Linked DNA regions of Homo sapiens: regions 1, 2, 3, 5, 6 and 7 are each linked to region 4. The links come from fine-mapping of genetic effects on gene expression. A gene starts in region 4. Each other region holds a variant in brackets. All regions are shown on one strand. Distances are between the middles of the regions.

Evidence for each region. PIP is the estimated chance that this variant, and not a neighbour inherited with it, causes the effect.
Region 1: its variant is the best candidate, but not a certain one, in a credible set for the expression of ERICH1 in whole blood (TOPMed, PIP 0.54).
Region 2: its variant is the best candidate, but not a certain one, in a credible set for the expression of ERICH1 in whole blood (TOPMed, PIP 0.83).
Region 3: its variant is the best candidate, but not a certain one, in a credible set for the expression of ERICH1 in amygdala (GTEx, PIP 0.59).
Region 5: its variant is the best candidate, but not a certain one, in a credible set for the expression of ERICH1 in whole blood (GTEx, PIP 0.73).
Region 6: its variant is the best candidate, but not a certain one, in a credible set for the expression of ERICH1 in CD4 T cells (CEDAR, PIP 0.85).
Region 7: its variant is the best candidate, but not a certain one, in a credible set for the expression of ERICH1 in esophagus muscle (GTEx, PIP 0.64).

The regions. Positions count from the first base shown.
Region 1 is chr8:849,545-854,006 of GRCh38, forward strand. All of the region lies in intron 1 of DLGAP2 (DLG associated protein 2), which reads left to right. Among named protein-coding and RNA genes, the nearest start is that of DLGAP2, 110 kb to the left of the region's middle. The variant C/G (reference allele first, on the strand shown) is at 2,421.
Region 2 is chr8:657,676-662,137 of GRCh38, forward strand. LOC124902053 reads right to left here and starts at 2,287. Exons shown (of 1, transcript XM_047422538.1): 1 at 1,286-2,287. The coding sequence starts at 2,287. The coding sequence ends at 1,286. It also overlaps a transcript of ERICH1 not described here. The variant C/G (reference allele first, on the strand shown) is at 2,247.
Region 3 is chr8:652,039-656,500 of GRCh38, forward strand. It overlaps a transcript of ERICH1 not described here. Among named protein-coding and RNA genes, the nearest start is that of ERICH1, 77 kb to the right of the region's middle. RefSeq lists enhancers at 1-108, 109-608. The variant C/T (reference allele first, on the strand shown) is at 2,504.
Region 4 is chr8:729,226-733,225 of GRCh38, forward strand. ERICH1 (glutamate rich 1) reads right to left here and starts at 1,999. Exons shown (of 6, transcript NM_207332.3): 1 at 1,915-1,999. The coding sequence starts at 1,936.
Region 5 is chr8:703,328-707,789 of GRCh38, forward strand. All of the region lies in intron 2 of ERICH1 (glutamate rich 1), which reads right to left. Among named protein-coding and RNA genes, the nearest start is that of ERICH1, 26 kb to the right of the region's middle. The variant T/G (reference allele first, on the strand shown) is at 2,235.
Region 6 is chr8:635,937-640,398 of GRCh38, forward strand. It overlaps a transcript of ERICH1 not described here. Among named protein-coding and RNA genes, the nearest start is that of ERICH1, 93 kb to the right of the region's middle. The variant A/T (reference allele first, on the strand shown) is at 2,136.
Region 7 is chr8:668,290-672,751 of GRCh38, forward strand. It overlaps ERICH1 (glutamate rich 1), which reads right to left. Exons shown (of 6, transcript NM_207332.3): 5 at 309-503. Among named protein-coding and RNA genes, the nearest start is that of ERICH1, 61 kb to the right of the region's middle. The variant T/C (reference allele first, on the strand shown) is at 2,207.

The DNA of each region.
Region 1 (4,462 bases), 120 kb after region 4:
ACTGCCCTTTTGGGTTTCTACCAGCCTTGCCCGAAGGTTCCAGCGGTGCAACATCCTTCCAGGACCCCTGTAGCCTGGGCTAATGGTCTCCCAGCCGTCCTAATAGTGGAGAGTTGTATCTCTTTCAAGGTTTTACTGCATTTCCCCTGATAACTGATGACATAGGAACTTTTATCATGTGCCTGCTTTCCATCTTTACTCTTCCATGAAATGTCTGTTCAAATCTTTTTCTCACTTAAAAAAGCTAGGTTGCCCGGGCACGGTGGCTCACACCTGAAATCCCAGCACTTTGGGAGGCCAAGGTGGGCCAGGAGTTCCAAACCAGCCTGGCCAACATGGTGAAACCCCATCTCTACTAAAAATACAAACATTAGCTGGGCCTGGTGCTGTGGGCCTGTAATTCCAGCTACTTGGGAGGCTGAGGCAGGAGAATTGCTTGAACCTGGGAGGCAGAGGTTGCAGTGAGCTGAGATTGTGCCACGCACTCCAGCCTGGGCAACAGAAGGAGACTGTCTAAAAAAAAAAAAAAAAAAACTAGGTTGTTTGTATTTTAATGTTTGGTTTTGAGACTTCCCTCTGTATTCTGGGTCTGAGTCCCCTGTCAGATGTGACATTTGCAGATATATCTCCCCCACCTTTGCGTTGTCTTTTCATTTTCTTAACAGTGTGTCAAAACAGTGTTTTGAATAATAGAATATTTTAATTTTCATAATGTCCAGTTTATCACATTTTTAAATGCATTGTGCTTTTGGAGTTTATCTCAAAGCAATTTTTTGAACCTTCCACCTGTTGCTACAAGTTAAAAGTTACGCTGCCTCTTGAAAGATTTCTGCACTTTGTGCAGAAATTTTATTTCCAATTTACAATGTATTTTAAGAAAAAAAATCATCAAATTTGCTTTTAAGTGTTTTTATTGTTTCACAGAAAGCTTTAAATTAATTCTTAATAAGAATATTTTGGAATAGGGAAACACTTCTTTTCACAATTTGTCAGAGTATGTATCTATGTTTATGTATATTTGTGTGTCTGTGTGTATGAAATGAGGCTGTTGCTTGAATAGCCCAATTAAATGTTGGCATGCTTTATTTTACCTAGAAGAAAATTAGACCCCAGAAAGCAATATATGCATTATTGGCCTTTATGTATTTTAGAATTATTTTATAATAGCATGAAATTTTAAATGTTGCGAAACTATCTGGCTACTATTAGGCTAATCCTGAAAGTATGCCACAGTGTTGTAATGCACTGTGATTGTCTCAATTTTCCTAAAATAATAGTTAAAATTTTTTTTTTCACTTTAAAGAATTCAGAGGTAAGTTAGTAAAGTTTGGTAACAAATTTTTCTCACAAAATATTGTCTTTCACTCTCTCTGTTTTCACTTTTGAAATAGCCAAGATTCACACCTTAGAAAATGCTGCAAAGAGGCCATGTACAGAGCTATGTGATGAACAAGTAGAGACGCAGCAAAAGATGAAAGATGCACTGTCCAGATGGAGTTCTCTGTATCAAAACAACATGTTTTTAACATATGATTTTTCTGTTTGTTTGTGCCATAGGTGTTTGCTGTTGAGAGAAGACTTTTCTGTATGTAGATGCACAAGTGCCATGTGTTACAGTTGTCTTTGGTGTTCAGTATAGTCACACACTGTGCAGGTGTGCAGCCCGGGAGCTGTGGGCTGTGCCATTCAACCCAGGGGTGTGGTAGAACGCACCATCCAGGTGTGTGTGAGTACAGTCTGATGTTCGCACCCTGACAAAGTCGCCTGGTGACGCATGTCTCAGGACGTAGCCCCATTGCTAAGCGACGTATGACTGACTGTGTTTTCTTATCACGTCAGTGTTGTGTTACCTGTGAGCGACATGTAAGCTCATCGCTGCTTTGGAATGGGTGCTGCTATTTCCCTGCTACTAGGTAATTTAAAATAATGTGTTAATAGGAAGCACCTATGTTAGTATATTATGATGAAGACTATTTGATCATTTCAGTATAATTTTTTGTGTATTTTATTGTGTACATTTACAAACACCGTTCTGAGATTAGTTCCTGGGATTTGTGGACTAGTCAGTTCAGCCTCTGTTCAAAAAACTTGTCACATTTATTTATCCAGCTGCCGAATTGCTCAGATCAAGTGCCAGAAAGCATGCAGTTTTGTGTGATTTGTGGCTATGGATAGGGGCATAGATTTCCTCCCTCATTTAACACGATTCACGGAGACCACGCCACGTGCCCCGCAGCCTGCTAGATGCCAGGAACCACACTCGGAGCTGGGAAGCAGTGACTGTTCCGTGACTGCTGGGTGGCGGGAGCTGCAGGGGGCCCCCGCTGCGTTTCCCTCTCACCTTCACTAATACCTGGAGCTGTCTTTATTATTACTCCTCTCTTATTAGCGAGGACACTGGTCTTGGGAAGGTGCAGTGA[C/G]TTGGTCAGGGCACTCAGCTAGTGGGCGGCGGTCCTGGGACTCAGCCCCTAAACCCAAGCTCCCACCTGCCCTGTGGACAACAAAGGCATGCAGCCTCCTGCCAGCTGTGAGAATTGGCTTTGGTGTAAATTTTGATTTCCTCTTATGTGTGTGCAGAGATTTTGAGAAGGGACACATTGGAAGCTAAAAAAAAAACATGTCAAAAACAGTTTAAAGAATTGCTCTGAGGGATAGGAAATCTGTCTCTCTCACCTTTCTCTGTCTTGGTGGATGACACAGACTTCCGTGTCCCCTCTCCCTGCACGTGGATCTGGAGGCCACAGGCCTGGGGCTCTGCCTCCTGTCTCCACTGAGCTGTCATGAAACCACAGTAGCCTCCTGTTTGAAATCTGAGATTGGCTTTTCACACGTGATCTTCAGTTTTCCAGATGGAAGAAAGAACACTAATGGCAAATCCAATGAAACCATCATGATTCTTTTGTCCGTCTTTTATCTGCTCATCAGCTGTAAATTGTAATGAATTATTAGCTTGATTTTACTCAAGATTCTGTGGGTCATTTTCCTCTTTCTCTTGCCAGCTTAATCGATTGTCTGATTGTGGTAAATGAGCAAATCAACATCTCTCAGCCTCGTGGGCTTTTGTATAAATTGCGGACAGAGTGTTATGTTCCCAGTAGACGGGATTTGTACTGATTATGTTCGCAGATGTCATGCTAACACCTTGGCTACTTCAACGTTTCTGTAAAGGGTAAAATATCCACCCAAACCCAGCAAGGCTGAGTGCATTCTCGGGCGAGTGTTTCCTTGGGAAATCTAAGTAGCACAGTTTCATTCTGAATGACAACGTCCTTGATGTAGAATTACTGTTGCTTCACAAAAGGACCTCATTTACCTTTGTGCTGTTTTTGTTTATGGATCCCCTGGCCGATTCCGTTATTTCTGCAACAGATTTTGGTAAAACTGGCTGTTCTTATGTGCAGCATGACGCTGGATCTTCGCAGATGGGTCAGACTGGCTGCTTTGGGGCAGTGGGCTTTGTAGTGACACATTAAATAGTTACAGATACTTTAGGAGCAAAAGAGGAAATTCAGTGCTTAGTTTATAATAGCTGGGTGCTAGAGTATGAGTCTAACATTGCACTTAGGTGTGTGTTGGGGTCCCCAAGAGTACCCACAGTTCCGTGATTCACTGGGAGCACTCCCAGGGCTCGGCACAGCTGCAGGACAGCTGTGAGTTGTTACAGAGAAAGGACGCGGAGCATGGTCATCAGAGGGAGAAGGTGGAGGAGGGAGGTCCAGGGAAACGAGATGGAAGCTTCCAGAGCTGTTCCCCACAGAGTCCCAGGAGGGGCTTGGTTCTGCCAGTATCAAGCTGTGACCACGCATGTCGTCCAACAGGAAGCTTGTGAGAGACACGGTGCCCAGGGTTGTGCTGGGGTCTGCTCAGATAGACAGCCCTGCCAGCAGGAGAGCAGGTGTGTGGTATAAACATCATCTGCACAGATGGCTTAGGTACAGGATGCCCCTCATCAGTTAGGGAATGATGGGGATCCCCCACGACATCCAAGTTCTCAGATGAAGCCCAGGGCCAGACTCACCCCTCATCAGTTAGGGAATGGTGGGACCCCCCACGACATCCAAGTTCTCAGATATAGCCCAGGGCCAGCCTCGCAAGCAGCCGTTCTAGGGAGCAGTCTCAGGCCTGCAGCCACACCGCCCCGTGCACAGGCTTAACTACTTTAAATCACTGGAGGATGTGTTTGTCATTTAATTTAATAAGAATTCAGTATTCATGCCCTGATTGCTAGGGACTGAACCAGGGCATTACAGAAACAAGGCAGTTTTCTCTTTATGTTGATTCTCTCTGTGGTGGGCTGAAGGTTTGTCCCCCAGATTCATACCCTAACCCCCAATGTGATGGTGTTAGGAGGAGAGACCACTGGGAGGTCATGAAGTCATGAGGGTGGGGCCGCCACAGGTGGGATAAGTGCCTTTTTAAAAGGGACCTGAGAGAGCTCCCTGCACCTCCTACCTAGCAAGGA
Region 2 (4,462 bases), 71 kb before region 4:
TCAGCTGAACGCCAGGGGCGCCCTTTTCATCAGGAGTGAGGGTGGAGATTAGAATGATATAAATGTCATGCCATGTTAAATTAAAGGACTCAGTAATGTGCAGGAATTCCTTGCGATAATGAGAGGGATTTTCAGAGGAAGATCCCAGATGCTGTTGGATCTGCGACAAATCAGACGTAGTGAAAGGGCCATGAACACGAGCACTGCCTTCAACCCCAGCCACTCCCAGAAGAGGAAGAATGGCAGAGGTGGTTTGACTGGCTGGCGTTTCCTTTGCCTTTAATGTCCAAATACAAGGCTGGGCCCACCAGCCCCCAAGGGGCATCCAGGAGGGGCCCCACCCGATCCCCACGGACCATGTTTGAGAGAGAGGCTGGCACGGCCCCTTTCTAGAGGCCATTCTTAGCTCCGGCTGCTGCTGCCCTTCTTCGTGCCCAAGTGGCCTCTGGCTGGGCCCCAGTCTTTGGCTTCCAGGGCTTCGGCTGCAGCTGGACTGTGGTTCCTGGACTTCCTCACCCACCCTCACCACAGGAACAGGAGGGCCCAGCCTGGCCCCTTGCTTGCCCCTCCCCTTCTCATTTGCCCCCAGGTGACTGGGGAGAGAGGCTGGTTCCCTGCAGGAAGAAGACTGCCAGCCTGGCCTCCACTGGGCCTCCCGGGAGGTGGGTTACTGTGAGCCCTGTGGGGTGGTCAGGCCAGAGCCCCGGAAGGGGGTGGAGACACAAGGCCCCGAGTCCAGTCCAGTGTAAAGCAGGGGCTTCGACCTCCCTGAACACCTGGCACTGTGGGCCAAACCCCTCTTCCCAAACCCCTCATCCCATCCCCGAGGCACAGTTCTCTCCTGTTCCTCTCCTCAAATTATTCCTCCTGTGTCATGGGCTGAACTATCCGCGGCCCACGTCCATGTTGATCCTGGCCCCCGATGTGGCTGCATTTGGAGACAAGACCTTAGGGAGGTGACCAGGCCTCAATGAGATCATCAGGGCGGTCCTGACCCAATCGGACAAGAGGAGGACAAGACCCTAGAGATGCCCCTGGTACAAACAAAGGCCACAAGAGGACTCAGGGAGAAGGTGTCGTCCACAGCCTCAGGGCAAGGCCTCGATCGGGGACTCCACCTGCAGGACATGAGGATGCCAGGCTGTGGGCTTTGCTTATCCTGCTATGGGGCCCGAGCTGGCTCCTCCCCAATTCCTCCCTGGCCGTCCTTCCTCTGCCTTTCCTTCACTTGCTCTGCGACCCAGGGGCCCTTACCAGGCTCTGGATTTCAGGAGCTGGGACTCCATCATCTCATCTTGGTAGGGTCCCCACATCTCCGGTGTGCACTGAGCATCCTGGGGAGGGGGTGACCATCGAGATCTCCGGTGTGCACTGAGCATCCTGGGGAGGGGGTGACGATCGAGATCTCCGGTGTGCACTGACCATCCTGGGGAGGGGGTGACCATCGAGATCTCCACGGTGCACTGAGCATCCTGGGGAGGGGGTGACCATCGAGATCTCCGGTGTGCACTGAGCATCCTGGGGAGGGGGTGACCATCGAGATCTCCGGTGTGCACTGACCATCCTGGGGAGGGGGTGACCATCGAGATCTCCGGTGTGCACTGACCATCCTGGGGAGGGGGTGACCATCGAGATCTCCGGTGTGCACTGACCATCCTGGGGAGGGGGTGACCATCGAGATCTCCGGTGTGCACTGAGCATCCTGGGGAGGGGGTGACCATCGAGATCTCCGGTGTGCACTGAGCATCCTGGGGAGGGGGTGACCATCGAGATCTCCGGTGTGCACTGACCATCCTGGGGAGGGGGTGACCATCGAGATCTCCGGTGTGCACTGACCATCCTGGGGAGGGGGTGACCATCGAGATCTCCGGTGTGCACTGAGCATCCTGGGGAGGGGGTGACCATCGAGATCTCCGGTGTGCACTGAGCATCCTGGGGAGGGGGTGACCATCGAGATCTCCGGTGTGCACTGAGCATCCTGGGGAGGGGATGACCATCGAGATCTCCGGTGTGCACTGACCATCCTGGGGAGGGGGTGACCATCGAGATCTCCGGTGTGCACTGACCATCCTGGGGAGGGGGTGACCATCGAGATCTCCAGTGTGCACTGACCATCCTGGGGAGGGGGTGACCATCGAGATCTCCGGTGTGCACTGACCATCCTGGGGAGGGGGTGACCATCGAGATCTCCAGTGTGCACTGAATATCCTGGGGAGGGGGTGACCATCGAGGCTTCCACTGGCAGG[C/G]TGCTCCCTGTCTGTCCGTCTCCCTTCCTTTGTGTCCTCATTCAATCCCTTACAAGGATCCTGGCCTCAAGCCCCCCAAGGGAAGGGGGCAGCCCCTCATCAACTCACTGTGCCAGATACAGCTGCAGTGGAACAGAGGCCTGTGCTGAGGCAACGAGGTGGGGCTGAGCTCCCGAAGGCAGGGCCTTCCCCGACTCTCCCCCTGGCCCCTGCCCGGGGTCATGGCTGAGCTCCCGAAGGCAGGGCCTTCCCCGACTCTCCCCCTGGCCCCTGCCCAGTGTCATGGCCTCCCCTCCAGCATGTGCTCATGTTCACACACACCTGGGGCCATCACCTGTGATGAGGCTTGGCAGTTGTTATTGTAATATTTGACTTTTAACAACAGGCAGATTACCTGGGCAGGCCTGATGGAGTCAAATGACATCTTTAAAAAGAGGTTCTCCATACCAGAAGATTCTTCTGCCACCCTGAGGTCGGCTGCCAGGTTGGAGGGGCCACGGGGCTGGGACTTGGTGCCTTGAGGTGTGGCAGCGGCCACAGCATCAGCCAGCAAGGACACGGAGCCTCTGTCCTGCGGCCACACGAACAGCATTCTGCTGGCGGCCCGTGAGTCCCCACACAGAGGTCCCAGCCCGGGCTGTACTGAATCCCCACCCAAAGACACTGCGAGGCGGCAAATGGTGTCGTTTCAAGCCACTATGCCTGTGGTCATTTGTTATGCAGAAGAAGAAAATTAATTTTTTTTACAATAAAAATTTTGGAATTCAGTTTCCTCCATCCCTGGCCCTGGCCCAAACTGGGAGGGAGCAAGAGATGAAAGAATGGCTGGGACACAGCCTGCCTGGGCAGCCTCAGGACAGCGCTAAGATCCGCAGCTTTCGAGCTGCTTCCACCTGTGCTCCCTGTCTCGTTGCCGGCCATGAGCTATATGGGACTGCTCTCCTGGGTGGTTCTCGGGCAGGCTCCGGGTTCCTGGGATACCTGCTCCTCCGCTGGGTCCTGGGCGGTTCTCAGGCTAGCTCCGGGTTCCTGGGATACCTGCTCCTCCGCCAGGCACTGTGACCTTGGCTCGCTCTCAGCCTTCAGGATTCACGCAGTGGACCAAAGCCCTAAGTAACCTGGTAGGGAACTCACTGCACCACAGTATCCTGTTGAATAAGTTTTGAGGAATTTCTGACCCCTTCAAAGCTGTACCCAATATTGGTGCGAGGCGGGGCAGATGCATGCACATTTCTTATTTTGGAGCGGGTGGAACACATTCCTGCGATTCTCTGAAGAGCCCCGGGATGAGAGGACATGTCACCTGGAGAGCGCTCGGGGCAAGAGCTGCACAAAAAAGCAAAGCCCAGAACTGACCCTGTGGGCCCTGGAGTCTCCTGAACCCACCACAGTTCTGCCCTGGAGCCTGGCGGCAGCTGGGCCTGGGAAACAAATTAGAGACCGGCTTGTGCAAGCCCTCTCTTCTCAGGCTCTGCAGACACAGGCGGAGGTCCCAGGGTGCAAGCAGTACTGACAGGCTCAGATATTCTGTGTTTTTTTCCTTCTAGGCACAACTGTCTTAATATTGGCAACCTGACAATTCCTCATGCTCCTGACTGTTTCCTTCTCTGCCTGTCTTAATTGACGTGGTTTACAGAAAATAAATTACATGAACTGAATATTTTGCACTATTGTAGAAGATAAATTGATCTAATTATTATCTAACTTCAAACACAGTGGAATAAACAGATTATCATATCTATGCTGACATATTAGAGACAAGATTTATTTGCTTTTGTTTTGTAGAAGATGCATTTTCCTTTTTGGAATCAGAATGATACACAAAACGAATTAACCCTGAGCATCCCACCTGCTCGACTGTACCTCTATTCCTCAATATTCTCAGGGTCAGGAAAGTGAATGCAGAAGGTTTCGCAAAGTAAAGCCCCACAGGATCACAGAAGCAAGAAGGGAGTCTACAGGAATTCTGTGGAACCCAGGAAACGGCCACACGTGACCCACCACCCCCCGCAGTGGCAGGGATTCTGTGGAACCTACAGGGATTCTGTGGAACCCAGGAAAAGGCCACACATGACCCACCACCCCTGCAATGGCAGGTATTCTGTGGAACCTACAGGGACCCAGGAAAAGGCCACACATGACCCACCAGCCCTGCAATGGCAGGGATTCTGTGGAACCTACAGGGATTCTGTGGAACCCAGGAAATGGCCACATGT
Region 3 (4,462 bases), 77 kb before region 4:
GACCTGGAGGCAGAGCGTTTGCGGGCGCTGGGGCATCTCTGCATAGGTTTACCACCGACGGCTCTGCACTCACCTCTTCAGACAAGCGATTGCCCTGGTGCTCCATGCCACCCCATCGACGCCTTCCCTGAACTCACCCTGCACCCACGTGCCCTCTGAATCCGACGCCTGAAGACCTTACTTCCGGTGGCAGGAAATGCAGCCAGCAGGAGGAAAGGTTACGTGATGGAGGGAGAAGCTGTTCTACAAGAGCAAGACTGGGGCCTGGCCCCGTCAGAGTCACCACCTTTAGGGAAGCAGTGGACAGAGATAAATGAGACAACACAGGCTCGCAACCAAATGCAGAGCCCGACCGTTGTTGGCTGCTGGTTGGAAAGATGTGCTGGGGACAGTGGGGAAATCTAGATAGGAACGGAGTGGAGTTGATATCACATAAAGTGACCACGAGCTTGCCTGGGATGGTTCTGGCTCACACCTGCTGTTTCCGCATAATTATTAATCCCACCTCATTCACTTTCCAAAGTGTCCTGTTCTGCTGATAATTCCTATGGTCATTCAAAAGCTGGGGAATTGGTGTAGTTGTCTTAGGCATGAATAATGGTGTTGAGCTTACAGGGTGTCTTCATTCCTAGGAGATGCCTCAGGCTCAGAGAATTTAAGCTACTTGGAGAGACCAGGGGCACACAGCTCATCTGATGTAGAACTGGTTTATAAAAACTGTGATAAACAAAACAACCCAAAAGTAGGCACGGGACCGGAATGGAAATTCTCCTAAGAAGATAGACAAAGGTCAACACGCACGCAAAAAGATGTCCGGCACCACTAATCAGCAAGGAAATGCAAATCAAAACCACGAGGTGCTGCTTCATAACCATCAGGATGATTATCATATATTTTTACAAACGAGAAATAAGTGCTGGAGAGGATGAGGAGGAATGAGCACACTCATGTGCTGTTGCTGGGAATGAAAAACGGTACAGCCATTGTGGAAGACGGGGTAGAAATTCCTCAGAAAATGAAACCCAGATTTAATTACCGTATGATCCAGCCCTTCCACTTCTGGGCATAAACCCCCAAACTGAAAGCTGGAACTCAACAGGTGCTTGTACACCCATGTACAGAGTAACATTATTCTAACAGCCAAAAGGTGAAAACAGCACCATGTCCATCTACAGATCAATGGACAAACACAGTGCCATGTGCTAACACGAACTAAATGTGGCCTGAGAAGAATGCCAGGACGTCTATGTTTGAGTCCTTGTGGACGAACTATAACCTACCTTAATAGCAGACAGGACTGAAAACCTAATTCAGGAGTCTGCGCCTGTAATAGTGGCCGAGTCTTGACCAATCCCAGCAGCCATACGTCAACCATGCGTAGACTGCCGAGTGTTCAAACTGTTCCAATAAGGCAAATGCCAACCTGGAACCAATCCAGCTGTTCTGTACCTCACTGCCGAGTTTTATATATCACTTCCCCTTTTTTTTGTCTATATATTTGTTCTGACCACGAGGAATCCCTGGAGTCTCTCTGAATCTGCTGTGATTCTGGCGCTGCCCGATTCATGAATCATTCATTGCTCAATTAAACTCCTTTAAATTTAATTCAGTTGAAGTGTTTCTTTTAACAAATGGAATATGATCCAGCCTTAAAAAAGAAGGGAGTCTGGACACAGGCTATAACACGAGGAACCCTGAGGATGTTATGCTGGGTGAAATGAGCCGGTCACAGAAGGACGAATCCCGCAGGGTGGCACTGAGGAGAGGTCTCCGGAGGGGTTGGAGCCACAGAGACAGAAAGTAGGATGGTTGGTGGCTGCCACATGCGCGCAGGGGAATCTGGACACAGGCTATAACACGAGAAACCCTGAGGATGTTATGCTGGGTGAAATGAGCTGGTCACAGAAGGACAAATCCCGCAGGGTGGCACTGAGCAGAGGTCCCTGGAGAAGTCGGAGCCACAGAGACAGAAAGTAGGATGGCTGGTGGCTGCCAGGTGCAGGGAGGGGTTGCGGAGTTCCTGTCTGATGGGGACAGAGTTTAGGTTTGGGAACTCTACATTTTAAAATGTAAATTTTACAGTATGTGTATCACAATACAAATGTATTTTTTAAAGTATAGTAGACTTTGCCTCAAAAGCCCCAGTTCTTTCAATCTAAATAAGAAAATAATGCAAAATACGCCAAAGGCTTTAAGACCCTGTTCATCCTAAGGCAACGTAACCGTTCACAAATAAAGGAATAGCTAAGTTAATTGAGGCCCGTTAACTTACTAGCATATTGTGCTACCATTAGGATGGATGGCCAGGAAGCTCCTTCAGAGGCTTGGTAAGAGAAAACCTGGAGGGACTGGAGGGGCAGAGCTGGGACGGGGCCTCCTCGAGGGGCTACGGTGCTGGGGAGGGCTGTTTCCTGATCTGGGTGTGGGTTACAGGGGTCTCGGCATTTTGTGAGAATTCAAGGAGCTGTGACATTATGTTTTATGTACTTTTCTATATGTATGC[C/T]ATACATCAAAAAACATTGACTACAGTTTTAAATAAATTAAAAAATTATGGATCCATATTGGCAACTATGTAAAGACACACACTGAAGGGAAAGATGGAAAGGAACCTCCCACTGTCTACCAGAGATGGCTTAGGTGACGTCCCCGAGGCCACCACAGTGACATCCCCCCCAGGCTGCCATGGAGATGTCCCCACAAGGACTTGGGCTGACACCACAGTGTCCCCGTTGCTGGGAGGGGCAGGCAGTGGTGTCCATGGTGGCAGTGCAGGTAGATACACCATGGGTTTGCCCCAGGAGAGGACCCCCCGAGTAGCTGCTGTCCCCCCAGCAGGAACCTGAGGCGGGAACACCTGCCAAGCTGGAGACAGCGGGTCACAATGGCTTTGCTTGCGGTGACCAAATCCTCTCAGGCTGGACGCCAGCCCCCTGGGGAGTTGCGCCCTGGTGCTCACTTGGGCACTTTAATTATCTTTAGTAACAAATTCCCTTCAGCCCAGCTCACTACAGAAAGCCGTGGAGAACAACAAAAAGGAAAACCAACCCCGAGTGGTCTCTGCCGAGCCCAGATGCACGACGGGACCTCAGGCCAAGCCCACGCCAAGTCGGCCCCAAGGGACTAGGAAGAGCAGCCGCGTTTGATTTTGTTCTTCAGCTTCGCCTTTCTAACAGCAAGGACTTGGCTGTCTCTAGACAGGAGACAGACGCTGTCCAACTTATTCTAAAATTCTCTTTCACTCTTACGCTCAGACGCCCTCATGCCACAGGCAGGTTGTAAGCAAATCCAACACGGCAGATAGTAATTAAGCCTGCAGAGAGGATTTCTGTACGTCAGCACACCCAGGAGCGTATGTAATAGGAGTCTCACTCGTTTTTGTTTGCCCGTCTCTCACATAGACTTACGTTCTTACCTACGTGTGCGTTTCGTGTTCTGGACGATGGTGCACCAGCACCTGCCCTTGCAGGAGCTCCTCTTTTCTTCTTTGCTGTGGTCAGTTGCTGGGACCCAGGGGCCGAGTGGATCACGCAGCAACCTTCATCACGGGGGATCATTCTGGGGGCATGTGTGGCCTTTTCTCTGGCTTGCTCACTCCTTATCTGTATTCATTCTGTCCTCTGCATTCCTTCCTTCCTTCCTTCCTTCCTTCCTTCCTTCCTTCCTTCCTTCTTTCCTTCCTCTGTGCCCCACTTCCATTCCACTCCTCTCTCATGCACAGTCACACACGGTAGACAGTGTATTATTTAAATACATTCCTGCAGAATTTCTATTGTTGTATGTGCCTCATTTTTAACTCACGACCACGTTTTTCATGACACATCCTTTCCTGTCTTACTTTTCCCTCCACACACGCAGGTGCAGAGACCGCCCATCCACTATGCTGTTCTCGCAGTTACACCCAATCGCAACAGGTCCCTCCCCCTGCCCAGGTGGACACCAGGGGCTCCCTCTTCAGCCTCCGCAGATGCTGCTGCAGGGCTGTCTCTGTGCCTGCAGACTCATGGCCTCAAGACTTCCCCAAATCAGGCTGTAGACCTGCCCGCCAGGTCTGAACTGCCTGTGACCACAGCCATTCCCAGGTCTTCTCCGAATGGCCTCGCTGCTGGCACGGTCCTCGAGGGACATGCCCCTCATCCCCACAGCATCTTCTAAACTCCCCCGGTTCCTTCTTTTTCTGTTTTCCCCTACAAGCCTCCCGTCTGGGTGCTCAGTGCCAGCAGCTGGATCCCCCCTGCAAAGCTGCTCCTCCCCTTCGAAATCTGCAAGTCACCTGTGGGGTAAGGTGAGGCTTCGGGACTCTCCCCTTCCCCAAAATATCTGACCCAGTGATTTTAACATCCGGATCGTCCTTGTTGGGTTTGGTTATTATTCCCTTGGGGACGACAAAGCACTTTGCTAATTCTGTCATCTCTATGTTTGTTTGCCCCACTTTTTTGTGAGAAGTAGAGCTTTCTCCTCCTGA
Region 4 (4,000 bases):
TGGGGTCTGCTCCAGGAGAGGCACACCTGCGTCTTGTGGCACCTGCCTCCTCTCCCACCATCAACAACAGCGCCCAACCCCCACCTGCAACCACCCCATGACCCTGAGCTGGACCTTGGGAAAACAGACATCCCTGCAAGGGGACACGCCAAGCTCCATCCCCTCCTCCTGCGGCACCTTCCCCTAACTTCACTCGTTGCAAGCCACGCAGAAGGGAAATGCTCTGAAGAAGACACACACTCCAGTTTCCTGCTCCATCAGGTCACAAATGCTGGGAAGTTTTATTCCAGCTAAATCCTCCCTTCAGTGCCTCTCAGAGCCTAAGTGCCACTCAGCCGATGGGCTCTTCAGGTGATCTTGAGGAAGACACACAGAAAACTAATATTTTCTTTCCCACCTACATTTTATAAACTTTTGGGATTTATTAATCTATCCTTCCAACCACAATGTCCTTAAACAACGTAAATTTACTTGACCATTCTGTCACATATCCAATAGGAAAAAAAGGCTGTTTCGAGGGAAGGTGATTAGTGAATGACTAAAACAATTAACAGCTTTCATTCACTTTAATTTGGTGAATGGAGAAAGGTTTTTTTTTTAAGTTGATTAGGTACATTACAGATGCTATAATAATTTCTTGCATAGAGAAGAGCATTTATTCCAGGCTTAGAAGAGTGCAAACATTTGAAGGAATGTAAGAGAAGAGTGTGTTGTGGTTTAAAACAAGGAGAAAACCTGCAGTAGCAAGAAGCCCCCCACCAAGAAGGCAGGCACAGCTTTGCAGGCAGCTGACCGTCAGGTCTGCTCCTAAGAACCTCGACACTGAATTCACAGCCTGCCAGCCCTGCTTCCAGGAGAGGGTCATGAACAAGGTATTTCTGGTGCTCATTAACATACGTGAATGTCCATTTTAGAGCCTAGCATGTGACTGCTTAAAAACTCTTAGGTCATTTTTAACCTGTGAGCTGATCAGGTGACAATTCCCTGGTCCTGAAGGAGAGGGGGAAGCCCACGTGCAGTGTGTCCCTGAAAAGGAAGACTTGAGACCATATTTTTCTCCACATTCTGCCTCACTGAGAAATTTTTTCTTTTTAAGCAATTGTTTTATAACTATAGTTTGCCATTATCTTTTCATTTCAAAGGGAAAAACATGATTATCAGTTTTAAACATAGAGAAGGAAAAAAATTCATCAGCGCCTGAATTAATCCAAGTAACACGAGATTCATGTCAAAAACCGCCACTCTTTTCATTATGATGATGATTACACGGTGAGGGTAATGAGCTGGGGTTTGCAGGAAGCAGGAGCACGCTTTATTTTCTAACACTTCCGTTCTAAGGCACGGCCAGGTTAACCAATTCTATTTATTCTCCTCCTGTCTTTGGTACTAATGCTATCACAGAATTTAATAAGCACTAGGATGCGCCCCACACCTTAGGTCCACTGAAGGTAAACACCATGACCTCCGTCTCTCAGATGAGGACACAGTGGCTCTGGGAGGTTCTGCTGTACTTTTCGGTGAGGCTGCCGGAGCCGGCTGCAGCCCCACCCCGGAGCCCTGGGCTAGGACCCCTCTGAAGAGCTGAGCGGCTCCTACTCACTCACCAACAGGGGCTCTGCTAAGAACACGAATCCCTGGCTGGGCTCGCCTCCGCCCAGGACCCCAGACACCAGGTGGGGCCTGGCAGGGCCGGCCCGACCAGCAGCCATGCAAGCAACAACACGGGCGAGGGGTGGGCCGCGGTCCGGGGTAAGAGCGGGGGATGGGTAGGGACTGGGGTGGAGGTGGGGAGTCGGTCTGGGTTTGGGGTGGGGCCTGGAAAGGGGCCGGGGTCGGGGTCCCGAGTCAACACCGCGGTCTGAGCCGAGAGCCGGGTCTGGGGTCTGGGCAGGCCTCCGCACCGCACCCACCTACCGTGCTTCCTGTGCGCCGCCATGCGGGACCCTGCCGCGGACCTCAGACCACGGCGCGCGGTCCTGAGCTGAGCGCCGTGCCTTCCGGGTTCCGCCCTCCTGGGTCCGCCCACAACAGCAGGAATGCCCAATCCGAATACGGGACCCCGCCACGGGCGGTCAGTCAACTACATCACGGCCGTAGATTGGCTGATATCGAGTCTGTAGGCGTGTCGCGAGGCTCCAGACCCGCCTCTGGGAGCCCCGCTGTGGAGCATGCGCGGAGGGAGGGCTGCGGGGGCGGCGGTGCGGGCTCTTGGGGACCTGAGGACGCTGTGAGAGCGCTGGCGGCGACTGCTCTACGCGGTGGCGGAACTCTGGGGGCGAACGCTAGGGAGGGCGTTGTGGAGAAGAGGGGAACGGAGGGCCCCAGAGGAGAGGCGCCCACCCCCAACCCCACGGGTGCACCTGCGGATCCCCAGTCCCCGCTTCGCCCCCAGGCACCCGCCGGACACAGGGAATGGCCAGGGCAGTGCCCCCGGCCCCAAGGCACCTGCAGGATACAGGGAGTGGCTAGGGCGGTGTCCCCGGTCCCCGGGCACCTGCGAGACACGGATAGTGGCCCTGGCTGTGACCCCAGCCCCCAGGCACCTGGAGGATATAGGGAGTGGCCAGGGCGGTGACCCCTAGCCCCTAGGCACCTGCTGGATACAAGGAGTGGGCAGGGCGGTGTCCCCGGCCCCCAGGCACCTGCAGGATACAAGGAATGGCCAGGGCGGTGTCCCTGGCCCCCAGGCACCTACAGGATACAGGGAATGGCCAGCCGGTCCCCAGACACCTGCTGGACACATGAGTGGCCAGGGCGGTGACCCCAACCCCCAGGCACCTGCTGGACACAGGGCATGGCCAGGGCGGTGTCCCTGGCCCCCAGGCACCTGTGGGACACAGGGAGTGGTCAGGGCAGCGGCCCCCACGTCACCCCGGCTTGCCAGACCCCTTCTTGTCTCCCTGTCCAGCTCCAAGGGCCTCTGCCCTCCCGCTCCACCCCCTCAGGACCCTCCTCCTTGAATTCGTTTCTTCCAAAACATTTCCCAGGTGTGTGCCAGGCGCTGTTCCTCATGTGGGCTGTCTCAGGAGAGGAACCCACGGAGATGGGTGTTTTGGAGGAAAATGAAGCTGGTAGGGCCTAACTGTAGAGTGATGGGCGCGGGCTTGAGGTAGGTGAGGGAGCAAGACTGGGGGTGCCCAGGGAAAGAGAGCCCACAGGAGGGAAACGATGTCCCAGGAGAACGGCTGCCCTGTTTGAGTTTGGGGACCAGAAGCAAGGGCAGGATAAGGGGAGCTCAGATCAGGAGGAAAGGAGACCCAGACCCAGGCAGGGTCTGCAGGGAGCCTGATAACTTTGCATGTTCCAAGAAGCAGGGTGGAAAGTTGTTACACGATGTAGAGCAAAGGGGTGAAATGATCTGATGCATTTTCTTTCTTTTTGGGGTAGACAGGGTCTCACTCTGGCCCAGGCTGGAGTGCAGTGGTGCCATCACAGCTCACTACAGCCTCCAGCTCCTGGCCTCCAGCAATCCTCCCACCTCAGCCTCCCAATGTGTGGGATTACATGCATGAGCCACTGTGCATGGCCTGATGTACATTTTAAAGAAGTCATTTAGCGTTGTGATGACTAGAGTTGCATGGAAGGAAGTGTGGAGATTTCATCTGCTGCAATAAGAGATGCTGACAGCTCACATCCAAGTGGTGGCACTGGAGGTTCTGGGTGGGGGGGCTAGTTGGATTGTGGACATGTTTTAAGGTAAAGCCAAAGAGATTTTCCGATTGATCAAACTGGGCTGTGACAGAAAAGGAGAAATGTAGAATGGCTGTAAATTTTTCGTTTGGAAACTGGAAGGCTGGAGTTGCACTGAGGAGGTGGAGAGCCTTCTGGGGATCTTCGTTTGGTGGTAGTGTGCAGTTTTAGACAGGTCAAGTTTGAGGTGCTCATAAGATGAGTAAGCATATGAGGTCATGAAGGGAGCAGGCGTGAACTTTAGAAAGTGGTCCAAGGAATAAGCCCCGAGGGGCTCTGGCCTTTGAGAGGTGGGGAGATGAGGGGGCCC
Region 5 (4,462 bases), 26 kb before region 4:
AAATGAAGGACAGATGAAAAAAATACAGTGTTGGAAAGTGAAAAGTAGACGGGATGCTGAATCCTAGAATGGCAGCCGAGACACAGCAGACACGAGATCTGCTCCAGAGGGGCCGCCAAGGAGCCTGGAAGTGGGGAGAAAAAGGGGGGCAGGCAGGCTGTGGAAGCCTCCCCACCACCCGTGGGAGACCGGGACTCACTCTCTGCAAAGGCCAGGCCTGGCTCCCAGGAGCCCCAGGCACCATAACTGAAGGCAAAGACTCCATAAGATAAACAGGGAGGGAGAGCCTGTCCATAGAGAGTGTGAGAGACCCTTCTTCTCCTCCTTCCCGCTCCAACTCTGAGACGCAGTGACAAAAACGAAGGGTGCAGCCGGAAGGGTGGAAGATGAAATTTGAGAAAATCTCCCAGAAAGTGGTCTCAAATCACTAAACCATAAAAAATCCGGGAGAAGATGTAAGAAAAAGGGGATCTATTGGGAGACTCAATGTCTGAATGACAGGAATTCTGTAAACCGAAGATTGAAAGCAAAGAGGAGGAAACGATCAAGGAAACAAGAGAGTGGCACATGTTCCCAGACTACGGAGGCCACGACAGATGAAAACAGACCATGCTCAAGACCTCAGCATCAGGCTGCACCCACATGAAGGCCAGAAGCAGAACCTCAAACTGTCCTAAGGGAGGAAAACTGCTCATAGCCACAGGAATCGAGAATGATGGCAACTGCCTTCTCACAGCGACACTGGATGTTAAAGACTTCCAGTGTGAAAGACAGTTATTAGCCCAGAATCCTACACCCCGAAAAACTTTTAAGTACAAGAATTAAGGTATACTTGACCTTCAAGATCTCTAAAATATTTATCTCCCAAAAACCATTTTTCAGGAAGTTACTAACGAACGCATTTCAACAAAATGGAAGCAAACCCAAGAAATGAAAAGACTGAGGCCCAGGACAGCAAAGGAAGCCCCCGGGAGAGGTGAGACCGGGAGTTACGGCAAGGACTTGGGGGCGGCCCATGCTGGGGGTGGAACAGTCTGGAAGAGGCCACGGAAGATGAAGCTCATTGACCCTGAATGTGTCTGACCATAGAACAAGGACAGGGAGGTGAGGGGAGAAATTAGTACTATTAAGTATTTAGAAGAAAATGTAAAAATCCAAGAAAACTATTAACTCTACTAAAGCTCTGCTCACTCCACTAAAGGTTTCACAAAACGGAATAATCGTGTGTTATGTGACTCAGCAAGAAACGGTGTTTACGGAGACATAAACATGTAAACAATACTGATGTACAAACATTTTGAAAAAATCATATTGGAAGGACGGGGGTTGTAAAAAATGTGCATCCATGGTGGGGGAAGCTGCTAAAAAAAACCAAAATCCTTAGTTTCCAAAGTCAATACATAAGATTTAATCCCTTCCCTCCCTGCCAAAAAAGAAAGAAAAAGAAGAAGAAAACAGGAAGCAACAGTGTAAGTGCGTGACTCTGAAAGGGGGGGTGGTTTTACCCAGGAGCAGCCACTGCAGAGCTGGAGGGTGTGTGACTGGAGTGATGGGCAGAACATTGCTGTTTTTAATAATAATTCCTGAGAATTATTTGAATCTAAAATATATGCAACACATAACTGACAAATTTAAAAAAAAGTTCAATATGGGCTCTTCAGTGAAAAAAGTTTACCAAAATGCACATACACCAGTTATTTTGGTTGTTGACAAATCAGTCTTATCTTTGGGACAAATGGAATTATCAACACTCTTCTAGAACCAAAGAAACAGATCGTGTGAAGTGAACAAATATCAATCAATTGGCTAAATCATTGCCATAATTACCATGCTTTGACCTAACCGTACAAGAACATTTTCCTCCGTCTCATGTCCAAGGACGGATGTGGGCACTGTTCCTCATCCGGCTGCCTCCTGTCCCTCACAGAGCGCCACTCGGCCCAGCCCTGATATCCAGCAGGACTCCTCCTGGACGTGCATCTCAACGGACACTGCGCGATGGCCCGTGCAGAAGTGACCCACGGTTCTTACGTTTTTTATTGTGATTTCATCATTTTACCCCCGGCCAAGACTTCTCTTTTTCCAGATGCAAGTAAATTATAACATTTTTCCTTTAACATTTCCAAGGCACAGCACTTCAAAAATATGTTGTTCATGATTAAAAAAAAATCAATAAACTGGGCATAGAAGGGAACTTCTTCAACATGATAAAGGCCACGTATGAAACCCACAGC[T/G]AACATCATACAGGATGGTGAAAACAGGGATGCTTTCTCCTCAAGATCAGGAATGAGACCAGGATTCCCACTCACGGCACTTTTTGTCAACATCGTATTAGAACTTCTAGCCAGGGCAATTAGTCAACAACAACAACAACAAAAGGAAGCAAAGGGCATCCAGACTGGACAGGGAAAGTACAACTATCTTTACTCACAAAGGAAAAAGTAAAACTACCCGAAATCACAGATGACAGCATCTTGCACAGTGATGTACCACAAAAGACACTGGTGAAAGGCTGGCCGCATGGGGGACGGTGGAGCCTTAAGATAATGCGGACCCTGAAGATGGTAACACTGCACTTTCACCGTACGTTTTTAATGTTTGGATGCTGAAAGGCTGGCTGCATATAGGACGGCGGACCCTGAAGATGATAACGCTGTATTTTCACCGCACCTTCTTAATGTTTGGATGCATGAACACTCACCATGGTGTTACAGTTGCCACTGTCTTCAGCACAGGCATGTACTGATTGGGCGAGCAGCCTGGGAGCAACAGGCTGTGCCACACAGCCCAGGCCTGCAGCTGGATCCACTGTCTAGTGTGTGTAAGCGCACTTTGCTCACACAGCAATGGACTCCTTTGGAATGTATTACCGTTGTTAAGTGATGTGTGACTGTACATAGAAAATCTAAGAAATCCACAACAAAAATGTAAGAGCTAATAAACTAGTTAGGCAAAACCGCAGGATACAAGGTCAATACACAAAATCCCTTGCATTTTCACAGACAAACACTGAACATTCCCAAAAGAAAACAAACAAAAAAGAAAGCAATTCCACTTACAATAGCACCAAAAAGAATAAAATACTTTGGAATACACTTTTTAAAAAACGGTAAAACTTTTCTACGTCCTGTAAGTACTGGAAGGAAAAATATAAAAAAAGATAAGGCCAGGCGCAGTGGCTCACGCCTGTAATCCCAGCACTTTGGAAGGCTGAGGTGGGCGGATCACCTGAGGTCGGGAGTTCGAGACCAGCCTGACGAACATGGAGAAACCCCATCTCTACTAAAAAAATACAAAAAAAATTAGTCGGACGTGGTGGCACACGCATGTAATCCCAGCTACTCAGGCTGGAGAACTGCTTAAACCCAGGAGGCGGAGGTTGTGGTGAGCCAAGATCATGCCATTGTACTCTAGCCTGGGCAACAAGAGTGAAACTCCATCTCAAAAACAACAACAACAACAAAAAGATAAAACTGCACTCTGAAAACTACAAAAGATGGTTGAAAGAAATTAAAAAGAACTTAAATAAACAAAAAGACATCCTAAAGCTAGGGACTGGACAATGTAATAGTGTTAAGAAGACAATACTGCCCAGTGTTCTACAAACTCATGCAATACCCATCAAAATTTCAAATGATTTTTTTTTGCAGAAATTGACATGCTGATCCTAACATTAATATGGAATTGCAAGAGACCCTGAGTCTTGAAAAAGAACAAAGTTGAGGGACCCACACTTCTCAATTCAAAACTTAGTACACAGCTACAGCAATCAAAACAAGATGGTGGATGGTACAGACATGGGATGGACATACATCAATGGAATAGAATTGAGAGTCCAGAAATAAACCCCACATCTGTGGCCAACTGATTTTTTTTGTTTCTTTTTTTTTTTTTTTTTTAGACAGAGTATCACTCTATCACCCAGGCTGGAGTGCAATGATGCGATCTTGGCTCACTGCAACCTCTGCCTCCCGGGTTCAAGCGACTCTACTGCGTCAGCCTCCCAGGTAGCTGGGACTACAGGTACCTGCCACCATGCCTGAATAATTTTTGTATTTTTAGTAGAGATGGGGTTTCACCACGTTGGCCAGGCTGGTCTCGAACTCCTGACCTCAAGTGATCCATCCACCTCAGCCTCCAAAGTGCTGGGACTACAGGTGTGAGCCACCGCACCTGGCTGCCAACTGATTTTCAATGAGTGCTAAGTCCACTTGATGGGGAAATGATGTCTTCCACAACTGGTGTTAAGACAATTGGATATCCACATGCAAAGGAATGAAGTTGGAACTCTACCTCACACCATACACAACATCAGCTGAAAACGGATCAAGGACCTACACATAAGTGCTAAAACTATAAAACTCTTAGAAGAAAACCTAGGCATAAATCTTTGTGGCCTTTGATTAGGCAATGATGTCTTAAATATGATATAAAAAACACAGGCAACAAAAGAAAAAATAGA
Region 6 (4,462 bases), 93 kb before region 4:
ATTCCTCATCCTGCGAGCCGTTCAACCAGGGCGAGAAGGCCTCCGCCTCGGCAGAAACAGCCCAAAGCTGCACCTTGCCAGGGCCACCTGGTGCAACGAGGCTGTGGGCTCCTTCATGCCATCTCTCAGAGAGGCAAAAGCTGGGATCCTGTTAATAGCATTCTCTGTGGAAAACACTCAGCCTGGGGCTAATGTCTGGCGCGCTCTAAGGCGGCTGAATCCCTGCGCCCCGGCCACCTCCACTGCCCTGGGCCGAGCTGAATCCCTGCGCCCCAACCACCTCCATGGCCCTGAGCCGAGCTGGGCGTTCACAGCCTCCCTGAAGCTCAGCTGCGTGGCCACGTGGGGTTGCACGTCAACTGGGAACTAGGTGCAGCCACAACCAGGGAGCCAAGGCCTCGGATGTGTGGAAATCATTGATGGTTTCTGCTAGAGACTGTCCTTCTGGTCACGGGATGCCTTTTCATCGTTCCTCCCTCATAGAAAATACTCTTAGCTGTTCCCAAAGGAGACGGCCCAGAGTGCCTTCCTCTCCCGACTTTAGCTCAGAATCGGGGCATCTGCCTGGGTTCTGCCCCACGTGGGCCCAACAGAGTCTCCTCACGGACGGAGGCCTGTGCACTGAGCACAAGCCCTCCACTTACCCTCAGCCCTGTCCACCAAACCCTCAGCACTGTCCCACCAAATGCACAACAGCAGACAGGACACCTACAACAAAAGCGCAGTCCAAATAAAGGGTCGCTGCTGCAGTGGCTGTGCAGCCTCCGACACTGTGACCTCTGGGGAGGAACGGTGCAGACCTGGCCTCGGCAGGCAGCTCCCTGATGAGGCCCCAGACGTGCTCCCCTGAGGGGCCAGGAGGGATGCTCTGGGCTCTGCCCTCCCGTCCAGAATCCTCCATGACTTCCAGGCCACGTGTTGGGAGTCACCTTCTGAGCATTTCCCAGCCTGCACAGCCCACTTTCTGCAGGGTCGGAGGGTTGGTTCAGGACTTCCTTCTCAGCATTTCCCAGCCTGCACAGTCCACTTTCTGCAGGGTCGGAGGGTTGGTTCAGGACTTTAAGCCAGATTGCAAACGCACCGAAGGCGTCCAAACCAGCTCACCAAGCCTGTTCCTTGTGCAGTGACCACACCAGGGCTGCTTCCTGTTGCCTGAAGGCTAACGACACGTTTCTGCTTCTCTCTTCTCTCTGCAGCCACTGTGGCTTCTCTGGGCCCATCGGGGCTGTAGTTGTGTCAGCCCTGCTGGAAACAGGCTGGATCTGGCCACACTCATTCTGTGAAACACCCGGTGGGGTTCTGCAACCAACAGCCTCGTCCCCGGCATCCTGCATTCCTAGCTGCTTCCCAGAGCTGCCACCCTGGGACCTCAGTGGCCTGAGTGGGTAAAAGCCACAGCTGTGCCTGATTCTGCGGCTCCTGGGCTACACGTTCCTCTAGCCCCATGTGTCTCCTCTCATGCTGCCCAGCATTCCATCCTCACCACGTGCTTGGGGTTTTGCTAGGGCAGCTCGCCACTCCTGGGGTGGATTTCTGTATCCCTGCAGAGCCGGCTCGCCTACAATCAGAGCCCCACATGCCTGTTGTGGCTGTTTCTCCCGTGGAGTCGTCCAGGGCCCAGCTCCTGCTGTCTGGCTCTGCTCATGGCCACTGCAGATGCTGAATTCAAAAGAAGAGGGCAGGGAAGCTGTGTGGGGTGCTCAGCTGTGAGGATGACCTCACAGGGCCACAGAACCTAGTGGGGTAGGGCAACACAGCCCCACCGTGTGCCTGGGAGCAGGAGGAAAGCTGGGGGGCATCTGGCAGTTCCTACCACAGAAGCCACGGCTGCTCAGTTGGGGAGTGGAGCAGCCGGGAGTCAAACAGTGCTTGCCTGACGTCCAGACCCCGCTGTAGTCACCAGCCGTGCGAGAGCACAGCAGCCAGGGTCCTGCTCTCAACATGTAGCCTGCTCTGGCCACTGCAGGCAGCCGAACAAAATGCAGGGGCCAGGCTTTCTGCTGAGGACTTTGATTCAACAGATGCACCTTTAACAAGCCACTAAGTTCTGTGGACTGCTTTGCAGGGGCAGGATTTGGTGAGGAAGCAAAATAATGACTTTACACAGAAGCCTGTTCTCTAGGAGGTCCTGAGTC[A/T]TTTACATCGGTGACCTGGGGCAGCAGTCAGGCTGCGGGAGCACAACCCAGGCAAAGCACCTGCTGAGGAAGGGCCCAGCATCCTGCAGAAGCTCCTACCACGTGTGGGGCGCCTGGCCCTTGCCTTGGCGTTTCTTATCTTTTACTTACATCTGTGATTTCAGAGCCTCCCAGTGTCCTAAGACCTTGCTTACAGGGCTTTGGGCTAGTTCCAACATTCCTGGGGCTCGATGGGAAGCTCAGCACCAGACAGCCACGCTTGGGCACGTTCAGACCCTCAGCCAGCACGGGCCATGTTCTTCGGAGAGGAGGCCTGCTTGAGATACAGCTTCCGTTACAGTGCGGTGGGCAGGTGGGCCGGTCGTGCCTGAAAGGAGGGCAGTTGATGAAATGCACCTGGGAAGGTTCGTGGGTTCAAAACTGTCTTGTCAGGAGGGAACTGAGTGTGGGTCAGAACAAGGCCACGGAGGTGGCGTCCACTGAGCTGTGATCGTGTACGAGGGCAGGATCTCGCTTAAATACAGTGAAACTGTCTTGCGATGGAAACTCCCTTTGCAAACAGCTCATGATTCTGCTTGTGGATAATTTAAGTTGCTGTTGTGTCTCCTGCCTTATGATAGCTAATTGCAATCACTCCTCCCACAGGAGGTGTGTCTAACCCACCTGAACGTGGTTATCCCTGAAGCCATTCCACCCTTTCGTTGCGTCAGCATTGACCCAGAAGACTCATTTTGACCCCGGCCTGTCGTCATCGAGAGCAAGGCCACGGCAGTCACCCGCTGCCCTTGTGCGCAATCGCTGCTCAGTGGACGCTGCCTCCGTGGCCTTGTTCTGACCCACACTTGGTTCCCTCCTGACAAGACAGTTTTGAACCCATAAACGCCTATCTTTCCAGGTACATTTCACAACTGCCCCCCTACCAGTCACCACCGCCCCACCTGCCCACAACACTGCAACGGAAGCCGTCTCTCAAGCAGGCCTCACTGAAGACCACGGTCCATGCTGCTGAGGTCATGAATGTCCCCAGCGTGGCCACCTGGCACTGGCTTTTCCCCATCTGGGGAAGCTGGAAATGCCCAAAGCCCGGGTCTTGGATTCTGCTTTTTCTACTCAGATAAAGACACTTGGATCTGGGTCTGAAGTGCAGGCTGTGTTCCCACTCATCCCATCACTGAGGTCCTTGTGACCCCAGGGTCAGCTGTGTTCCCACTCATCCCATCGCAGAGCATCTGTGACCCCAGGTCATGCTGCTTATTCTTCCCAGGCTGCATATCAAGGTATACATATCAATGTATACCATCAGGATGAAATATCTTCCTAGAAGAAGTGATAGAGAAATAAATGAGGAGATGATTTGAAAAGCACTTTGAACTAAGAATTCTGAGCCTCTGGGCTGTCACTCTGGGCAAACCACAAAATATCAAAGAGCCGGTCTGTCATCAGCCACCAATCCAGTTAGCAGACACGACCGAGAACCCTGGATTCAGAAGCAGCCGCCAACCCAGTTAGCAGACACGACCAAGCACCCTGGATTCAGAGGCAGCCACCAATCCAGTTAGCAGACACGACCAAGCACCCTGGATTCACAGGCAGCCACCAATCCAGTTAGCAGACACGACCAAGCACCCTGGATTCACAGCCAGCCACGAATCCAGTTAGCAGACACAACCAAGCACCCTGGATTCAGAGGCAGCCACCAATCCAGTTAGCACACATGACCGAGCACCCTGGATTCACAGGCAGCCACGAATCCAGTGAGCAGACACACCAAGCACCCTGGATTCAGAGGCAGCCGGTTTTTCAGAACCAGCTCTGTTGTTCACTAGCCTCCTGGCCTTAATTAAGTTTCTTATTTCCTGAGCTTGTGTTTCCAGGTAAGATTCTCAAGAGACAAAGAAGAATAATGCTCCCTAAAAGCTGCCGCACACATGCCCTGTGTGTGCCCGTGACATGTCCCAAGCCCTGATGGGGAGTGGCTCATTTTGTACCACACAGCTGTCATCCCCACTTCACAGAGGAAGAAACTCAGGGGGCTGAAATACTTGCCTGAGACATGGAAGCAGTCAGTGGCAGAACTGGGAGATAACCGAGAAACTGAGTGGAATGCCGCCTAATCAAAGGACCCCTATGGAGAAGGTCCTCATGAAAAGGCAGCAGATGCTCCTTTTTTATAGCAAAAATGTTAATTCTTTCTATTTTGGCTGAACTTTTCACATCCCAATTCCTCTCTGGAGCTGCTGACACACAAGCCCCAGGTGGCAGGGCGAGCTCTCTCCGCCTGCTTATGTTTTTTTCTTGCTTGTGACCCAGAAAAATTGCCAAAGTCA
Region 7 (4,462 bases), 61 kb before region 4:
GAAGGAAAAGAGGAAGAAATGAATTCATTTCTATTTAAACTTAGGAAAATTTGGCTCCAAGAGTTGACAGCTCCCAAGTCCGGAAACTTAGACTGCACATGCATTTCTGCATATATTATGTGAAATATTTTTATATCAAGCAGAGATGCAGGAAGCCTGTTTCTCTCTGGGACTCTATTCTCCCATGCCATATGTGCAGTGTCATATTTTCCAACTCATTGCTGTTTTGGTGGCGTGTAAGTCTTTCAGAGGCAAACCTCGATGAGAGTATCTTAAGCAGGACCTTGAATAAATCGTACGGTACTTACCAGGAGGCATCGTGCAATGTTCTGGGAACATTTCCAGAGCATGCTTCAATCTCTCAGTATCTTGCAGGAGCAGCAGCGTTTTCATGTGGTACAGGATGGACACGTCTGAGGGCAGCATGCTGTGTGACGCAAGGCGGTCCAGCAGCTCCTCAGCGGCATCTGCGAGGGCAGCTGAAGCTGCATCTCTGGAGACACCTACATAAAGTCAGTTTTGCTTGGAAATACAGTTTTGTTTTTATTTCTATAAACTAAAGATAAGCTTTCCTCTCTTAAGGAAGGTCTCAAACCTACGCTTCCACACAGAATGACATATCTGGGAGATGAGAAGCTACCAGAAGAGAGAATCAGAACAGAGCTCAGCACAAAATACCACTGCATGAACGACTGTGGAAACCTGGCCCGTCTACACCTCTGTCTGGTGAGACGCCTCCCCTGGCCCATCTACACCTCTGTCTGGTGAGACGCCTCCCCTGGCCCGTCTACACCTCTGTCTGGTGAGACGCCTCCCCTGGCCCGTCTACACGTCTGTCTGGTGAGACGCCTCCCCTGGCCCGTCTACACGTCTGTCTGGTGAGACGCCTCCCCTGGCCCGTCTACACGTCTGTCTGGTGAGACGCCTCCCCTGGCCCGTCTACACGTCTGTCTGGTGGGACGCCTCCCCTGGCCCGTCTACACGTCTGTCTGGTGAGACGCCTCCCCTGGCCCGTCTACACGTCTGTCTGGTGAGACGCCTCCCCTGGCCCGTCTACACGTCTGTCTGGTGAGACGCCTCCCCTGGCCCGTCTACACGTCTGTCTGGTGGGACGCCTCCCCTGGCCCGTCTACACGTCTGTCTGGTGGGACGCCTCCCCTGGCCCGTCTACACGTCTGTCTGGTGGGACGCCTCCCCTGGCCCGTCTACACGTCTGTCTGGTGGGACGCCTCCCCTGGCCCGTCTACACGTCTGTCTGGTGGGACGCCTCCCCTGGCCCGTCTACACGTCTGTCTGGTGGGACGCCTCCCCTGGCCCGTCTACACCTCTGTCTGGTGAGACGCCTTCCCTGTCCAACACACGACTCAGGGCTACGAACAGCAGCAGGTTAAACCAGACAATGAAAGCAAGCTCTCTATGTCCACATCACATCGCTTAAAAAAAGAATCAGACTGTGGCTGTTTAGAAGAAATCAAGGAGAACTGAAAACAAGCCCCCGACTTCCCCTGGATCTGGCTGCTGGTCTTGTTTCTCTGGCTGCTGTTCAGCAGTATGACTGCAATTCACTTGCCTCTGGTGGTTTCGGCGTTAACCCTGCTTGGACTTGGCAGGACTTCTTCAACCTGTGACTCTGTGTCCTGTAACAATGGTGTAAAACTCCCAAATGTCACATCTCCGTCCTGCCCCCGCTCCGTCCTCTCTCCTCTCCACCTGGGCCTGTTTCAGGGACACAACTTCCCACTCCATGTCTGCCGGGCTCTTTCCTGTGTTTTCCACCCGTTTTCTCTCCACTCTGCATTCTGGGGACTTTCTTTCACCTGTCTTCCTGGTCACTAATTCTCTTTTATACCAACTCTCATTTGCTGTTTCCCTGTCTTTTGAGGCCTGAATTTTAGTTACTATATTTCTCAGGCCTAAAATTTCCATTTGATTATTTTAGTAGATTCAAATTACCTGGCGAAATGCTCCAATTTTTCCTTTTTCCCCTTATTTTAGGCTCCTTATCTGATAACATCGGCCTCTCCCACTGTGGCTCTACTGCTCTTTTTTTCTCGTGGTTTTCGGTGCTGTGGTCCTGTCTCGTGGCATGCCCGGTAAACTGTTGCTGAACGCATAGGAAAGACTGCAGAGGTCTAGGATGGCGACATTTTCCTCTAGAGGGCTCACCCTTTGCTCCGCCAGGCAGACCGAGTAGAGGGGGATCCCC[T/C]GGACCGTGCAGGGACTGAGCTGACTCCAGGGTGGCCACACATTTGGGACAGTGTCATCTGCTTCTGGGCTGCCCTGCTCTGCTGGGCTCGAGGGTCAGGCCGATCCTCATCTCATCAGCACCTCAAGATGGCCAAGAGGCTCCTATGTTATTCGGAGGCTCTCTGTGTGGCTTCTCATCTTCCACCCACAGCTTCAGAATTGGGCAAAGGTTCTAAGGGAAGCCATGCAGTGTTGAGTTCTGTTCTCTGACCTCTGAGTCCACCGGCCCCAGCTCCAACCTCTGAACCCCCTGGCCCCAGGTCCAACATCTGAGCTTACTGGTCCCCAGGCTCTGACCTCTGAACCCACTGGCCCCTGCTTCGACCTCTGAGCCCACCGGTCCCCAGGATCCAACCTCTGAACCCGCCGGCCCCTGCTCCAACCTCTGAGCCCACCGGTCCCCCAGGCTCCAACCTCTGCACCTGCCAGCCCCAGCTCCAACACCTGAGCCCACTGGTCCCCAGGCTCCGACCTCTGAACCTGCCGGCCCCTGCTCCAACACCTGAGCCCACCGGTCCCCAGGCTCCGACCTCTGAACCTGCCAGCCCCGGCTCTAATGTCTGTGCTCACTGGTCCCCAGGCTCCGACCTCTGAACGTGCCAGCCCCGGTTCTAATGTCTGTGCTCACTGGGCTCCAGGCTCCGACCTCTGAACCTGCCGGCCCTGGCTGTAATGTCTGTGCCCACTGGTCCCCAGGCTCTGACCTCTGAACCCGCTGGCCCCTGCTCCGACCACTGAGCGCGCTGGTCCCCAGGCTCCGACCTCTGAACCTGCCGGCCCCGGCTCTAATGTCTGCGCTCACTGGGCTCCAGGCTGAGACCTCTGAACCTGCCGGCCCCGGCTCTAATGTCTGTGCTCACTGGGCTCCAGGCTGAGACCTCTGAACCTGCCGGCCCCGGCTCTAATGTCTGTGCTCACTGGTCCCCAGGCTCCGACCTCTGAACGTGCCAGCCCCGGTTCTAATGTCTGTGCTCACTGGGCTCCAGGCTCCGACCTCTGAACCTGCCGGCCCTGGCTGTAATGTCTGTGCCCACTGGTCCCCAGGCTCTGACCTCTGAACCCGCTGGCCCCTGCTCCGACCACTGAGCGCACTGGTCCCCAGGCTCCGACCTCTGAACCTGCCGGCCCCGGCCCTAATGTCTGTGCTCACTGGGCTCCAGGCTGCGACCTCTGAACCTGCCGCCCCGGCTCTAATGTCTGCGCTCACTGGGCTCCAGGCTGAGACCTCTGAACCTGCCGGCCCCGGCTCTAATGTCTGCGCTCACTGGGCTCCAGGCTGAGACCTCTGAACCTGCCGGCCCCGGCTCTAATGTCTGTGCTCACTGGGCTCCAGGCTGCGACCTCTGAACCTGCCAGCCCCGGCTCTGTCTGTGCTCACTGGGCTCCAGGCTCTGCTTTTGGTTTCTCAACCTGTGAGGCTGGTTTTTCTGCCTCTCTGGGCTCCACCAGGTCCTTTCCCCAGACCCTCACCCAACGCCCACACACAGGACTTGCAGATTCCTGAAGACAAGTGGCTGCAGATGTTTCCATGATAATCTCCCCGTGAGGGTTCCAGGAGTTCCATCTTTCTATGAGCTGTTTTCCTGAGTAGCTTCCTGATCCCTTCAACAGGTGTTTCCCATCCTGGCTTTCTGGTTACTCCTGGCATGACTGTTGGTCTGCCCCAAGCTGCTCGATCACACACAGAATAGAAAGTTTACTGAGATCTTTCTGAATTCTGCGTCTACTTTGCAGTGTCTTAGCCATGTCTTCCTGATGTGCCATCTGGATATATGTTTTCAATTTGTTAATACAATCTGCTGAGAAACACGCTAAAGAGGAAGAGGCTAGAGTGCTCTTCGTGTTGAAATCAATCTATTAAAAATGGTACTTCTGCATCTTTGTTAAAATCAGTTACTTACTTCCCAAATTATTACATAGCTGATATTTCTCAATCTTGCTCATAAGAACACCATCAAATGCCTTGCTTAAATCTGGATCTGCTAAACCCACCACATTAACCTGAACCTGCTGGTAACGTCATTGAAAAGACACCTATACCCACAAAAATTAAACAGTATTAAAAAAAATTAAAGAGAAGAAAGCCAGGAAGCCAGCGCACGGTGAGTATCTCTGTTCTGGGGCAGCCACGTGTCCCTAGGTCAGCTGTCAACAAAGCGTAGTGCAGATGTAAGCAAGTGCCATCTGTGACATTAAACCTATGTTTATTTTCCTT